Regions from separate parts of the Homo sapiens genome. Here region 1 is linked to region 2. The links come from fine-mapping of genetic effects on gene expression. A gene starts in region 2. The other region holds a variant in brackets. All regions are shown on one strand. Distances are between the middles of the regions.

Evidence for each region. PIP is the estimated chance that this variant, and not a neighbour inherited with it, causes the effect.
Region 1: its variant is fine-mapped to the expression of TSPAN12 in tibial artery (GTEx, PIP above 0.99).

The regions. Positions count from the first base shown.
Region 1 is chr7:120,801,158-120,809,504 of GRCh38, reverse strand. It overlaps TSPAN12 (tetraspanin 12), which reads left to right. Exons shown (of 8, transcript NM_012338.4): 7 at 2,813-2,956. Among named protein-coding and RNA genes, the nearest start is that of TSPAN12, 53 kb to the left of the region's middle. RefSeq lists a silencer at 3,402-3,451. The variant C/G (reference allele first, on the strand shown) is at 4,425.
Region 2 is chr7:120,854,212-120,862,558 of GRCh38, reverse strand. TSPAN12 (tetraspanin 12) reads left to right here and starts at 4,415. Exons shown (of 8, transcript NM_012338.4): 1 at 4,415-4,739; 2 at 5,726-5,861. The coding sequence starts at 5,796. It overlaps LOC124901733 (a long non-coding RNA gene), which reads right to left and starts at 5,724. Exons shown (of 2, transcript XR_007060491.1): 1 at 5,351-5,724. RefSeq lists silencers at 4,761-5,060, 5,253-5,472.

The DNA.
Region 1 (8,347 bases), 53 kb after region 2:
CTCCAAATCTGGCTGTGTACAACTGTTGAGATGGTAAAAATTATCATTGTAACACAGATTTCCTGTTTATTTAAGTGCTTCCTAACTTTGTTTATTTATTGTATATTTGTGCTAAAAACAACACAAAGAGAAAATAAGCATTAGGAAATTTATAGTAAGTTATGTCAGCTACTGTCCTGAGTAGATGCTGCCCAGAGCTCGTTATTTTCTGGAATTTGTGATGTAGACAGTGATAATCCAGGTTAAAAAACAAAGTGAGTTTTTTTCTGATGGAAGCTGCACCTAGATGGACAATGTACAAGTACTGCAAATGATAGCACACTTATTTTTAGATTTGTTACATGGTAAGTTTCCTCCTCCATTATCATAAGACTATTTTATGTAAATGGAGATGGTGAAGACTTCTGAGAACCTGAGGTTTTTAAAATCCCTTATATCCCTTATATTAGTTTGCAATGACTGCTTGCGGATGGCCATCTTCTCCCTGTGTCTTCACTATGTCTTCCATATATATATTAAATATATATATATATTTAAATACCCTCTCCTAATAAGTACATCAGTCATACTGGATTAGGGCCCACCCTAATGACCTTATTTTAACTCAACAATCTCTATAAACTCTATCTCCAAATACAGTCACATTCTAAGGTACTGGGAGGTAGAATTTCAACATATGCATTTGGGTGGGGGACCCAATTCTAGAATAACCTGTATTGCAGAAAGCAACTTTATCAGGTGCCAGTCTCCTTTGCTCCTCATTCAGTGCAATTCTATGCACATACCGCAACTTAGCGGACTCTCACTTAAGCCCCAGTGACGTTTGTTTAATACGTTTTTAGAATACTAACTTTAAAAAATGTGTTTATTTATTTATTTTAACATAGTAGTTGGAGCATAGGCTTTGGAATAGACTGTGCCACACTCTGGCCTGTAACTTTAGCAAGCTACTTGACTGTCAAAGGCCTCAGTTTACTCATATGTAAAATGGATGGTATTTTCTAGAGCTTGACACATTAGCAAGAGTAGTACTATCTCACAATATGATATTAAAGTAGACAGGAAAATGACAAGGAGATGTAGACCACAGTAATATGTTGGTATGATGTTGGGCTTACTTAAAGGAGTTTTCAGAAAAAGTTTCAGAATAAATTCATTATCTTCTGTTGAAGAAGGACAATTATATACAAATGCTTTCTAAAATAAAAGTAAGTTCAGCACTGAGCATCGTATACTTATAATGAGAAAGAACATTATATACTTATATTTGAGAAAGTCATTTATGTAGAATATCTTATTTCCTGACAAAGCCATATAAATAGGCTGTTCCTTGCTGGATGGAGCTAGAGAGTTCCAAGAACTGTTCTGTCATCAACACAGAAAGGACTCATGTCATTAGCAAAGGAGACAAATGGATTTTCTTTGAGTGCAAGAATTTAAAAAGATGGACTTGGAAAGTTAACCTTTCCTTGTTTATGATTTTTATGAAGTGAAGTCTTTATACTACATATATTATTTAAGGATATTTAATGTCTTATGTAAAATATGTGACATCAAATTATTGACTAAATTTGTGATGTTTATAGTATACTCATGACTTTGAGAGCAAGTTTAAAAAGGAAAAATATATATAAAGTATTTTTTAAGTTTCTCAAAATTTCAGTATTACCCATAGCTTTCAGTAATTCGTCATTTATAATACTCTTAAGATGATTTTTTTTTCTGTTTAAAAATCAGACATTTAGGCCAGTGTAACAACGCAAAATACTTTGTGGTATTTTCATTGTTTCCTTTTGCATGAGAAGTTCGGAATTCTTCAAAGTTAATTTTAGTTAAATTTTGAAATGGTGGGGGATTGTGATATTTTATGATGCAATGTCAAACCTGGACATAGATTGATCTGTTGGACTGCATAATTTGCATAGCCAGTCACTCTTGGCAAAGTTCTCAGTGACTGCCCATAGTCCTTGTTTCTGGCTAGAGGGGAAAGAGCAACCTCCTTCTCCACTCAAGGACAGAAAATTATTCATCATAGTTAATTGTTCTGAATCTAATCTATAGAGGTCCTTAAGCAGTGTTTCCAAACCTTGATCAGAGACAGTTTTTGCTAATCTTTGGAGAAATAAGATAAAAAAGTAAAAATGTCAGTATAGTTTTTCTTAAATCCAATTTTATTCAAGCTAAAGGCACACACACCATTTCTTCTGAGATTATGGTAATAGAATATGAACATTTATTTCAAGAATCTTACTCAGTTGAATAAACACCAGTTGGCCAGACCTATGTTTATTTCTTAAAGTTTTTGGATATTTTACTAGCTAAGGAATCGATGTCTGCTAACTTTTTGTGATGTGGGCTTTGGTCAACACATGTTTTTACAAAGATTACAGAAACTTTTAATATAATATTTGAATATGTTGGGCAATAGAAAAATTTGATTAACTGGCCTTTGGTGGTTAGAGGTTTAATGATTAAAGTGTCACCTACTTGGGTTTGTTAGTGTGTATGTTCAATCTGTTGCTATGTATAGTCACTTGTAGATGAGCTTACAGTTAGGGAGTGAGTCTCAGTCATGCCTGATTTGTTTTTATGTGTTATGGGCATTATTACTCAGAATACTTCCATTATGCAATCGTTAGCCATGGTGTTCCTTTACTACATTTCTATCATCAACATAGACTGTACATATATCATTAGGTGATGACAGATATAGCTCTGGGTACAAAAATTTTAAAAAACTGATGTTTAATCTCCTATAAGTTAAGAAAATATTTTTGTGGTTTCTGAGGCTGACTAGTGATTTTTTTTGCAGTTTAAGTGCTGTGGAGTAGTATATTTCACTGACTGGTTGGAAATGACAGAGATGGACTGGCCCCCAGATTCCTGCTGTGTTAGAGAATTCCCAGGATGTTCCAAACAGGCCCACCAGGAAGATCTCAGTGACCTTTATCAAGAGGTGAGGCCATATATGGTTAATTTATTATGGATAAATGTTTTCTTAGGAATAACTTTAAAGAATCAACAATATGCCAATGAAATTTTCCTTCTCTGTCTAAATGTAAAAGGCCTTAAAATTTTTCTCTAATATGGGGAGAAGCAGAAGAAAGCTAAAAAACAATATAAAAATCTAAACATTAATCACATTTTAATAAAGGGAAGTGGGAAAGACCAGGTTTTGTAATTAATTGGATTTTGAACTGTTTTGTTTTGAATCAAGTTCCTACTGCTTGGGGATCCTTTGAAACAGACACAGGCAGAGTATGTAGCTAACACTGGATGTGCAAGAAGCAGAGGGTTTGGAGTTCCTGGACAGAATACGTATTTTAAGAGCCTCCACATAGACCACCAACACATAGAAGGGGAAAAAAAAGAACCTCTCCAAAGAAAATGCTACCATGCTACTCTCCAGCTCCCCCTGCTGGCTAATGATTAGTGATGTCAGTTTTAGTTCACTGATTAAGTTTTATGCTCAGTGGCGGTAAAGTCAATCCTCATGTGGCCAGGAAATTTACATACTTGTGTTTTCTGGGAGAATTGATCAGAATAATCAATTACTCCATTTTAGCAGAAGTTTTCCTATTCATTCATTTTTACTGATTATTTTCAGACTTTGTTAGCAGTAAAATTCTATTTTCAGATTAAAATCTAAGACTGCACTGTCCTCTACAGCAGCCAAATAGCTACGTGTGGCCATTTGAATTAAAATTAATTAAAATTAAAATATCTGTTCCTCTGTTGCACTAGCTACATCTCAAGTGCTCAACTGCCACTTGTGACTAGTGGCCCCTGTCCTGGACAATGCAGATGTAAGACATTTCTATCATCACATAAAGTTTTGTTAGGCAGTCTTTATCTAGAATGGAAATGTAAAATGTGAATCAGATAGAAAGGAAACTGCTTAGGCTAAGGGGTTGGGATCATTCCCCACATACACCTCTTGTCAAGTACCTGGTATCACAAGGCACTGCTCACACTATTCATAATATAACTCATGTATATATAGTAGGGCTATAAAGAATGAAAATTTAAAACAAAGCAACAGGATTTATAACACCTGCATTTTGATATATTTCAAGGTGGTTATCTTAGGAGGTTATGCTTTTTATTCCTAAGAATACTACCATTCAAAACATCTTTTAGACTCTCTGCCAAAGGCAGTTGTTGAGATGGGCAGTCAATTTATATTGTAAATTAATTAATTTGGATGTTGTAATTAATTAAAAGAATGCTGTACTACCTATACAAGTGATCCATTATATTCATAGATATGAGTAACTCTGGGCTGTTACTCATATCTCAGAAGACAAGAATATGTCACCATTTAAGGATATCCAAAATAAAGTGCTTTGGGCTCTGAAGGCATGCCCCAAAGGAGAGTGCCAAGTATTTTTTAGGAGTTTAAAAATTGTTATAATTTCCTAGAG[C/G]TGCCATAACAAAGTCCCACAAACTGAGTGGCTCTGACAACGTAAATTTATTGTCACAGTGTTCTGGAGGCTAACTCCAAGATTAAGGTGTCAGCAGGGTTGATTCCTTCTGAGGGCCATGAGGAGAAATCTATTTCATGCTTCTCCCCTAGCTTCTGGTGGTGTGCTGACAATTTTCCTGGTTCCTCGTCTTTTAGAAAAATCACCCTGATCTGTTTCATCTTCACATGGTGTTTTCCTTGTCTGTGTGTCTCCAAATTTTCCCATTTTATAAGAACAACAGTCATATTGGACAAGGGGCCCACTGTCCTCCAGTCGGACCTCATCTTAGTTACATCTGCAACAATCCTATGTTCCAATAAGATCACATTCTGAGGTACTAAGCTCTTTAACATACGAATTTTGGGAGGACATAATCCAACCAATCACAAGAATTATTCAAACAGTTGAATAATTCAGGCTTTTTATTTTAAAAGATGATCAGAATACTTTTTGTCATGCTCACACTGCTGAGAAGCATTATGTTTGGATGTTATTGTTTTATACATACTTTGTTTAGAAACATTTGGCTTTGAATGAAAAGGAATATACAAAATATAGTTTATTGAACAGAAAGTTGTTGTAGGTTAGTGTCTGTAGGTTCTTCAGTGATTATGGCACTGAACCTAGTTCTTTTGTTTTGGGTGAAAGCTGAATATTGGCTAGTGTCTGTAGTAGGAATCATCAACTAATAAATGCGGCAAACTCCTGCTTATTCCATAAAACGGAAAACAGTACTAATATTTCTGAGGTAGTATTACATATAAACATATTATGGATATTCAAATATACTATAACTTACTATTAGACATTAAAAGAACAGATGGCTACAGTATAGTTAGAAGTATAGATGTGTAAATTGAAACCTACCAAATTTCCTAGTGTGAATTGTCCATTTGTTAGTTTTTACTGGTAGCGAGTCAATATGGACAATTATTGGGCCACAACATTATGGTATAATTTGTATCTGCTTTAGTGATTAATACTGATGATATGATTATAACTACTATTGATCATGAGATCAACTTACCGGATCTTCCCATAAAGTCTGAATATGGACTAATTCTCTTCAGTTTTGCTTTATTTAGCTGAAGACTGTTCCACATTAAACATTTAATATAATTTTATTGTTGTAAAACTGCAATTCATCCTCACTGCTTTTCTTAGATTGTTTTCACTAATAATACTACTTTATAAAGGGATGCTTTACTTTTAGGATATCTATAATTGCTTGCTCCATGAATTTTGAAATTGAAACAAGCCATACTATTGTGCATGTGCAAGTTGATAGCCCAGATTATTTTGAAATTTGTTCATATTTTTATCTGAAGAATTTTAATAGCAAGCTGGCATTGTCAGCCATGAGATGTTCTTTAGACACAGACTTCCAGCTAAGATGGGGGCTTATTATATCAGAGTAACCTGCTTTTGCATTTTACAACTAATAACATATGCTGATATTGGTAATTATACAGTATGCAATTATATGTATAGTTGATTTACAAAAGAGGATCATTTAGTAGTTTTATGGCATAAGTACAATTAAATCCATAATTAAAAATAAGACATAATTCTACTTTGCCCTGGAGAACATATGTTTCCTAATTACGGTGTGTCCAGAGATCATTCAGTAGGAAGATGAGGGTTCCAAAAGGAGAAATAAGTGAGGAACAGCTGGAGGTATTTGGGATGTTTATTCAGAAGTTGAGAGCACTGAAGGGAGATAGTTGAGATGTGTTCAAATATTTCAAAGTTCATAATTCAGAACAGGAACTAGACTTACACGTTGTTGCTCCAAGGGCCAGAAGTTACAGGAAGGAAATTTTGAATCAATAGAAGGAAGACCTTGCTCATCAAAATCCATCCAATTGTGAGACAGGTTATCTTGTAAAATAATGAGTGTCTCATCACTAAAAATATTGAAGTCAAGGTCAGATAACCATGTCATTGGTAGTGTAGAATGGGTTTTTAAATTAAGAATGAATCCAGACTAGATGAACCGCAAGGTCTCTCTTATCTTTCATATTCTGTAAGCTCAGAGATAAAAACTGGCTTTTTTCCTGCAATCATTCTTCAGTAGTCTGAAGTCAAGGAAATAAATCATTCTCAACCATCTGGTAGCCTGCATGGTCCCTGACCCAATAATATTTTATGACGCATTTGGAAACCTGTGAAAAATGACAGCAGAAATATAGCGACAATTGCACATTTAGAAACATTCAGGAGCCTTGTTAGGTTTGGCACACAGCTCTTCAAATATCCATAATAAGCTACAAACTTGTATTAAAGTATAGGTTTAAAAATCTATAATGAAAATACCTCTGACCCTCAGTTTGGATCTATCACATTCACTCATTCAAAATGATGATACGATAACCAATATTCATTCAGAATATTTTGTGATTGCCTACTGGGTTCCATTTGCTCTTCTAAATGCTAGGGATATAGTAGAGAGTGTTGCAGACAAAAATCTCTTCTCCTATGTAATTTATATTCTAGTTACGGATACATACGTTTAACAAGAAAAAAAAACAGCAATAGAAAATAATTTCAGGTGGTGGTAAGCACTTTGAAGACTCTGAACAGGGTAATGTGCTGGAGCTTTGTTGGTGAGGGAGTTACTTAAGATAGATTGTTAGGAATAGGCCCTCTTAGGAGGTGATATGTGAACTGAGACCAGTTGACAAAAAGTAAGCACCCATGCTGGGGAACAGTGTTTTGGGCCGAGGAAACTGCAAGTATAAAGGCCCACCCTTGGGTGGTCTGGGCCCGTGATTACTGACAGCCCACTCCCCTGTTCTTTGGAATCACCTGTGTAACCACACTCTAAATGCGAGGTGTAAGACTTGGCCTTGGCAAAATATCAGACTCAGAGTTTAAGTTGGCAAAGCACAAGCCTATGGTATCTCTTGTCTTCTCTCACCTGCTGAGTTTTTCATCATATCAGTTACTGAAGTGCAGTGTCTTGACTTGATCTGGAGAAGAGAAGCATAAATAAAAGACATAAAAGACAGCAGTTAGAAAATAAGTCTTTATAGAGCTGGGACACTCAACCTCTTGCCCATGGACCAGGGCTCTTCTTGGATGGACTTCAAGGAAAAAATGATACTGCAAAAATTGTTTTCAATATTTTATATCCATTTTTTTTCCAGGAAATAAGAGCCATAGCTTTCCTCAACTCTTCTTGGGGTTCCATATGTAAGAGAATAAGAAAACACAGTTGTAAAGAATAGTTGCAGCACTTACTGTCTCAGATAGGAAACTTAGCATAAGTAGCCCCTCAAAAAGGCTGAAATGCCATTTTACTCCTCTGTGTGCTACCTCAAGAAAAATAAATGGAAGTAAACAGGCTCACAATAGGCCCTGCTTCAAATGGACTGACTCAAAATGTAAAACAAAGAGGGACAGAACGTCAACTAAAATATACCTCCAGAGACACATTTCTTTGTCTAGTAGTTAGAAGAAAGACTACTGTTCAAATATATTGGCTGCTTCTTCAGAAAAGTAGTATTCCCACAGATTTATGTAAGGGCTGGACACAGACATGTCCTCCACACTTGTGTGCCTTTGGGACACTTTTCCTTTAGACCCTCAGACTTTCTGTGTTCCATGTGTTGGGTTACAGTTTTAAATATTCTTAATAATTTCCACTTTGACAAACCCATTTATGCCTCTTTAGAAGTTTATTTATTTCTTCTCCCAATGCTAGAAAACATTGACAAATAGAGGAAATTGGGAACAACAGGGGGTGTGATTTTGAAGGGATGTGACGTTTTTCTCCGAGTCTTGGCTTACAGGAAAAAGAACCCCATGATGACAAATGTGTATGGGTTACCAGTGCTCACAGAAGGTAAACAGACTTGTAGAGGTGCTCCTACAGGTTA
Region 2 (8,347 bases):
TGCCCCAAAATGGTTGGCTGAGAGCTGGGTTGTCCTAGCAGTGAACAGGAGAGAGGATGGTACTATGCCTTCCTTTCTCTATCCCTCAGTTCAAATAAAAATCTGACTGTGTTCAGTTATCTACCTTCCTCTCTTTGGCCCTGTGCTTTAGAGAAGGGCTGTCCCAGGCACAGGTAATACATCTTGATTGGTTTAAAACCTGGCCAGTCATGGTGGCTCACACCTGTAATCCTAGCACTTTGGGAGGCTGAGGTGGGTGGATCACCTTAGGACAGGAGTTTGAGACCAGCCTGGGCAACATGGTGAAACTCTGTCTCTACAAAGACAAAATTAGCACGACGTGGTGGTGCATACCTGTAGTCCCAGCTTCTCGAGAGGCTAAGGCATGAGAATCACTTGAACTCGGGAGGCAGAGGTTAAGTGAGCAGAGATGGAGCCACTACACTCAAGCCTGGGTGACAGAGTGAGACTCTGTCTCAAACAAAACAAAACAAAACAAAACAAAACAAAACAAAACAAACCAGTTATGGTAGAACCATAGTTCTTGTGAATAATTGGTAGATATATGAGTATGTGACCAGGTTCTAGCCAATCAATCAAAGGGATAATCTGCTGCAGAACTCCTGGGAGAGGTTTGCTAGATCCTAAGAGAAACTCATAGGAGAAAATACCTTCTTCCTTTGGAAGTAATGGTAACTGAAAATGATGCTTGAATTTGCACAGCCATCTTGTGACCATAAGAGGAGGTACCTGAGTATAGTATGATTACTCATTGTGTGTGTCAGGAGAGTAAGGAGGAAAAAGAACTGATTCCTTGATATCACTACTGGGCAGATGAATCGCTATTCCTGGACTCATTGTTATGTGAAACATATTTGTTTTTGTGGCTCTTTGAGTGCATTTGCTAGTTTGCATAGGGAGGCCAGATTCAACTAATACAAATGTAGGGTTTGCAATTCAATTTGAATTTCAGGTAGACATTGAATAATTTTTTAGTATATGTATGTCCAGTGCAATATTTGTCCCATGCAACATTTGGGACATGCCTATACCAAAAAATAAAAAATTGTTGTTTATCTGAAATTTAAATCTAATGAGGTGTCTTGTATTTTATCTGGCAATCCTAAGCTTACAGTAGAAAGCAGTCTACTTAATTCAGTAATGAAAGGATTTTCTCAGGTCTTATTAGGTCTGTATACTCTTTTAGAAGTGAGGTGAAAGTAGATTTACCAGTCATAGTTTAAGTACACATATTTGAATTTCAGCTTCATATTCTCGAAAACTAACTTTAAAAAGTTCGAAAATTTTCCTCTTAAGTCTTGTCCAACCAGATTTGAAATTTTATTGTAATGCAGATAAACAGTGGAAAGAATCAGACAGATCTTAGAATCTCAGCTTCTTTATTTACTACCTGTGTGGGTCTGGCAAAAATCAGCTATCTGAATTGATTTCAAGTATCTCAACATATAGTTATGAGGAATTAATAAGATAAATTGTGAGAAGCACCTATTATGTCAGACACATGTAATTTGTTCAAAACACATTAGGTGTCTATCCCATATTAATTGTAAAGTACTGGCTTAGGAGTACTTGTGAGGGTCTTGTACTAAGAAGGAATAGCAACTCATACATCCAAACTCCTGTGTTATCCTTTTTCTCTCCACAACTTTAGCAGAATGAATAGAATAAGATATGAACAAACAAGCTGCCATACGGAGTGAGGAACTTGTATTCTCTTACATATAGCTGAGTTTTACTCCTGACACTGGGACTGACATGTATGTGATTCCTTGTAAATGCTTATTTTATTACTTTTTGATGTCATTATTATTGTTATTATTATTATATAATAAGAAAGGATAGTTTTGCCTTTTCTTGGAGGGTAAGAACTTGTCTTAGTATCTTCAGCATGAGGCACAGTAGATACCACCACTGAAATGATACTTATTGGAGAACACCTGGCCACAGAATTGGGTTCCTGACTAATGGGTAGTAAATAGACCATACAATTTTCCTAATATGTTATTACATATTCAAATTTTTATGTGCATATTATGATATTTCTATCCTCCTTTTGTTCACACACACAAAAAAACAGATCTCACAGAGAAAAATATAGAACCCTCAGAATGACAGCTGCGATGTGAAGTCTTACTGTGCTTCCACAATTCTGGGAAAGAGAAGAATTGGAGAGGGAGGGAAGAACAGCTGCCTTCAAGTAGTTGAAGGGCTGTCATATGGGAGGAAGGCTTGCTCATGCCATGGACTCCAAGGGCGGAACTAAGGTTGAAGGGTAGAAGTTAAAAGGTGGTATGGTCAAGTTTAAGCAATAAAAACTGCCCATTACTGCAATGTCTCAAATGTGGTGAGGTCTCCTCTACTGAAATGTTGATTCACTGTCTCTGATGACCATTTATCAGGAATATTAGAGCAGTAACTACAGCTCTGTTTTCTTCTTAACTTGTAAAATGGGGATAATAATCCCAATTTATCGACTCACAGGAGAGGGATTTGATCCAACGAAATCTAAAGAGACCCTTTTGCTAGTTTTTAGGCAGCTGTAAAGCCCTCGTTGCAGGGTTTTCAAATTTTGCTGCAAACTAGAATTACCTTGGGAGCTTGGAAAACCCTGTGTGTCTAGGCCTCACCTGCAGAGACTCCGATTTAAGTGGTATCAGGCATGCCAGAGAATTAGGGTTGTTTCAAAGCTCTCCAAGTGATTCTCGTGTACAACAATTTCGAGAACCATTAAACTAGAGTACTAAGAGCCATTATTCTGGATTTTACTTTGGAATCTAGGTTGGACTACAGATGTGACGTTGAGCAACTACTTTATCTTGGATCTGTATTTCTTGTTTACCAGGAAGAAGAGGACATGCATACTTCTAAAGTAACTTCCTCTAGTATTTTATTACTTTAAGGCAGTTGACCCTTAAAGGTATACGAATTAAGGAAAGGGCACTTAACTACCTTCTAGGAGTAGAAGAGGATCTCTGCTTTGACACATGGGAATTGTTGGCACTCTTTTTCTCAGTTTTAATAGCAGTCATGGACTCCTTTCAATGCGGGGATGTTTATACCTCTCCGGGGAATGTATGGCACCAACAGCATTTGGATGGCTGGTTGTTTCAGCAGTCCTTTGCTTAAAATAGGCATGCACCCTAATTTGAGAAGAAACTGGCAGAGGATAAAAGTGGGTTTCTTTGCTCTTCCCCAGTATTCTAGAAGCTGCTTCATTATCAGAGTTGGAGTCATCTGATGGATAACTGGACATGTTTCTTGGTGTTTTTTTTGTGTATGGCTATACTTCTTTATACTCTTTTGGGTTGCTGTCTTACATACTGCTTAGTGACTTGCTTACCAATAATTTTCCTAGCCTAACCCAGGACAACCATGTTGTCTTTTGGTCTTGACTTTTCCATATGAGACTGCATGTCTTATTGTCACTCCAGTCATGCAGCAACTAACTCTAGACAGGCAGTCATGGACATAGGATTCCATTTTTTTTTTTTTTTTTTTTTCTGCAAGGAAATCCAAGGACTCCAGTTATTAGGTCAAAGATGTTGCTCGTATTCCAGGTAATTCATATTTGCTGGTGAAGTTTTATTTGCCATGCAGTGCCCACAAAAGTAATCCTAGAAATGAGCAGTACTGTGAGGCATAGCACAACACATCCACATTTTATGTGGAGGATATGATCCAGTGGCATTTTATTTAGTGTGAAACTTCTGTCTTCTAAAAGGGAAGATTCTTTTGGAAGGATGGTCTCCTGCTGTGTAATACTTCATGAATTTCTAGTTTAAAAAAATTAGATTTTCCAAAGATCCACTACTATGTACACATTTCAAAATAAATCACCCAGTTAACTCAAAACAATCTTATCGTGAGAAATTTTGGAAAGCTTGAGTTACTTCTAAGAGTTAAAAATGTTCTTTCCTCCTCTTCTGCATGTCAGACTGCACATGATTACTCTGATGTTTCCGTAAATGCTATTAGTGCACTATGAAAGTGGGAAAGAACTTAAAAAAAAAAAAATCCGGGAGGGCAACAAAGCAATAAGAAGGATCATAGGGCACCATGTTAATAACAAATCACAGGAGGTGGCTCCATAAAGGTTGTGAAAACTAGTTTCTCATTGCAGGAATTGGGTTGGGCCACCCCTTCACCCCCCTTCTCAAACACAAATATTATCATATAATAAAAGCCTGCTTCTCTATGCTTATAACCCAGCCTCCATTCCTTCGACGCCACCATTTTAAAGGGATTTACTGCACGGACTTCTCCCAAGTTCCTAGGCATTATCTTCTGGACCCTATCCTGCAGAGGTGAAGCGTCCCTTTGGGGACTCTCGCTGGGTGAGAGGGACAAGAAACACCCACTAGGACCCAACCCCGGCAGCCAGCGGCTCGAGCATGCGCTGAGAGTTTGTGCAGCTGGCCCTGGCTGCCGCCGCTGCCTCGTCCGGACTCGGAGAGGACTTGGGAGGGACAGCGGCGCTGGGAGGTGGCTTAGCAGAGACTTTCCAGCAACTGCTGCCCAGGACTTTTTTTTTTTTTTTTCTTTTTCCCAGGAGGCGGCGACGGCGGCGGCGGGGGGAGAGGAAGAGAAAGAAGCGTCTCCAGCTGAAGCCAATGCAGCCCTCCGGCTCTCCGCGAAGAAGTTCCCTGCCCCGATGAGCCCCCGCCGTGCGTCCCCGACTATCCCCAGGCGGGCGTGGGGCACCGGGCCCAGCGCCGACGGTAAGTGGCCACGCGTCTGTCGCCTTTCCTGCCCGCTGTCCCGCCAGCCCGCCGGCGGCTGCCCTCCGCGCTGTGTGCTAAACTACTTAAGGGCTGGCTCTGGGGCTCCCTGCCGCCGGCGCTTCCCCTCGCGCCCTGCCGGGGGCGCGCGGACGCGATGGCTGGGTCGGTGGCCGCGCTCGCTTTGTGCTCCGCGGGCGGCTTTGAGCGAGGGGTCGCGGGAGCGTCCCGGGCGGGGGAAGCGGGGTTTGAATGACTAACCCGGCGTCTGCACAGCTGCATCGGCCCTAATTCCCCGGCGCCCCCCGCCCCCCGCCCACTGTCCCAGGCTAATCCATCATTCTGGGGCCGAAAACATCATTTCTCACGTTCTCCCAGAGAAACCCTAGTAGCCGGGCGGAATCTCAACTCCGCGCTGCCCCCTCGCCCCCGCCCCCGCCCCCGCCCCGCCGCCCCAGTCCCTTGCATTCACACCCGAGCTGCGGGACGGGGTAGAGGGGTGCGGAGTTGGAGTGCCCAGGAACTGTCCTAACTAGAAGGGCGCTCATTCTCTCGGGCTTGCCGGTGGCGCCTCTGACGTGTCCGGGGTAGGGGGCAGTGTGGTTTCTCACCTTCAGGACAGTGCCGAGCACAGCTGTCCTCGAGGAGGGGCGTGGAGTGAGGGAGGTTTTCAAGAGCGTCTCATCAGAATGCACAGGGCTCCGCCGCGTGTCCCCTGAGAACGCGAGTTTACTGTGCGACTTCATTCATCCGGATAGTTGCTCTTTTCTTTTCCCAGCAGGTGTTATCTGAAGCCGGTTTGGAACTTTTGGGAGTTTAGTTACCATTATGATTTTAACAAATGATTTTTGATGAGGCGATGTCTCGAATGCACTGGGCCTCGGGACCCTCTGGACCCTGCTGAGGGCGGGTGGAGGAGGGACGGGCAGGCTGTGGGAAGCGTGATGGTGAGATGTCCCGTGTTCTCTCTCCCCCGCCCCCTGCAGATCGCTGCCGTTTTGCCCTTGGGAGTAGGATGTGGTGAAAGGATGGGGCTTCTCCCTTACGGGGCTCACAATGGCCAGAGAAGATTCCGTGAAGTGTCTGCGCTGCCTGCTCTACGCCCTCAATCTGCTCTTTTGGGTAAGTAAGTTTCACTGCACCAACAGGTGGGAACGGCTGGCTCTGGTTTTCTGCAGCCACCGGATAATGCGCCAAAGGGCATGGCTAAGCATTAATTAATTACATGGGATAACACCCTTTATTTTTCAGAGAAGTAAAATTTGACCTTCTTAAAATGCCTTTGATCTAGCTCAAGTTCCATTTGTAATTAGAACAAAGAAATCCACCCCTGGATACTACTGGCAGTAAAATTAGACTTGAAGTTAATCTAGGGATATAAATAAATGCACGTGCTTCTACTCATAGATAAGAAAATTATGACATACTACTTAGGGAACTGCTTGTTTGCGGGAATTTTAGATAATTGTGCAAGCCATAAATTGTTTCTTTACATCTCTGTCGCCTGTAAAATCTAGTTGGGCCAAGTCTTAATATATTTTTTGTGGGCGGGGACGAGGGGGAGGTGGTGGTGGAATTCACACCCAGATAACCTATCACAGAAAGGCTGAGTAGATTTGTCTAGGGGATTCCATACGGTCTGAAGGGTGATTTTTATGTAACTAATTCTAAGTTGGCAAAGTTTAAGGAATTGTGTGTATGCTTTTGGAAAATCCCATAACCATTTAAGGAAATAAAATACATAAAATGTAACAAGCTCATGGAAATCTTTATGCCCTATGAGTTAATGACTTTTTATGCTTTAAATCTTAATAAAGTATGATTAATAATCGTATTATTACTTATAAAACTTAGGAAAATGTAACAATTTAAACAGTAAATGTTGCTTCAGGAGGCTGCCATTCTTAAGCAAATTGTTCTTTCCATTTTTTTGTGTTCTATTAATAATTTTATTCAAAATTTTCTGTTACAAATTTTATTGTGCAATTTATTTATGTGGCTGACTGGCTGGCGTGCTGACTGGCTGGCATTGCCCAGCCTTTTTTTCATAGGGCTATTACATGTGGTCTCTAGAAGATGACATTTAGGTTGAACTGCACCTTATAGATGGCCCCATTTTAAAGGATAAATTAAGTCTTACTTCAGTGAGTAATCTGAAAATATCTAAAATGGCAGCATTCCTTTTCTCAACATTAAAGCATTAATTTCTCAAAATTAAAGCATTGGGTAGTTAAATTCACCATTTGGAAATGTAAAATCACAAGTTGATCTTATTGTAGTTTATACTTCTTAAAAGCTTGATTTTTAAGTGAATCATTAAATTACCTGGATCATTAAAAGTTATTAAGAGTTTAAACTCCATTTCTTTAAGATGTATGATAATTATCACTCCTGTTTACTAGTTTTTCACTTTTCTACATTGTGCTTTTTAATTATAGAATCATCACATTCCACTTCTAAAAGGAGCTTTAAAGATGGCCTGGTTGAACGTCCTTCCTTTGTGAGTGAGGAAATTAAGTGCAGATTAAGTGACTTGCCAAAGATCAGATAGTCCAATGGTGGCAGTGCCAGGAACAGAATTCAGCTTTCTTGCCCCTAGACAGTGTCTTTCACTTGACCCTTACTGAGTTTTGAACCTTAGAATTACTAAGATTGTTGTTGTTGTTGTTTAATAAAGAATAAAGCTTTGAAAAATTTGTTAATACTTTACATTGTGTGGGAAAAAAGAACCAAATCATTCAACAAAAATATCACTCCTCTTGGAAATGAAATTTGCATAAAAGCACCTATTCCTGAAACTCTTCCAGGGCTCTTTGTGTCCCCAGAGAATGTAAACGTTATTTCTTTGTTGTTACCCTGTACTTAAACCTTCTAACTTTCTATGTTTGTGTGTGGTGTGTGTGTGTGAGTGTGTTCTGGTTTATTGACTTATTTAGATTGCTTCCCTATTTCTCCAGCCCTCCTCTTCTCCCAATATCACCTACGCTTCAACAAAATAATCCAGGTTAAGCATCTTGTATACGTTTTTCTTTATTTTGTTTCATACAAAGATAGATTTACTCATACCTGTCCACAACAGATACACAATGCTATACATGTAAATTCTTGATTTTTTTGCTGTTAAATTAGTTTCTCATTTGGGTTAGAGTCATAGGAGTGGAATTGCTATGTAAAAAAGTATGTGATAACAACAACAAAAACAAAAGTAGCCAACCTATCTAACTAACATACAAAATAGCTAACGCTTCTTACTATGTTTGCCAGGCACATTTAGTGTCTGTTTCCTAGCCTGTAAAATAGGAATCATAGTTCCCTATCTTTTAGAGTTGTGAGGAGGATTAGAGTTAACATATATACAGCGCTGAGAACAGTGGCACATAATAAGTGCTATCTCTGCAATAGCAGTATTGCAGTTATTACTATAACTACTACAATGATGATGATGTTCTAGCAGATTACCAGGAGGTGGATTGCTACTATCATTATGGTACTAATCATAGTAATTGTTACTGTTATGATTAATACTGCTACTATTGCTACCACTACTGCAATTCCTTTGACCCAACAATCTTGTTCTGGGTATCTGTTCCCTAGAAATAAAAGCAGTA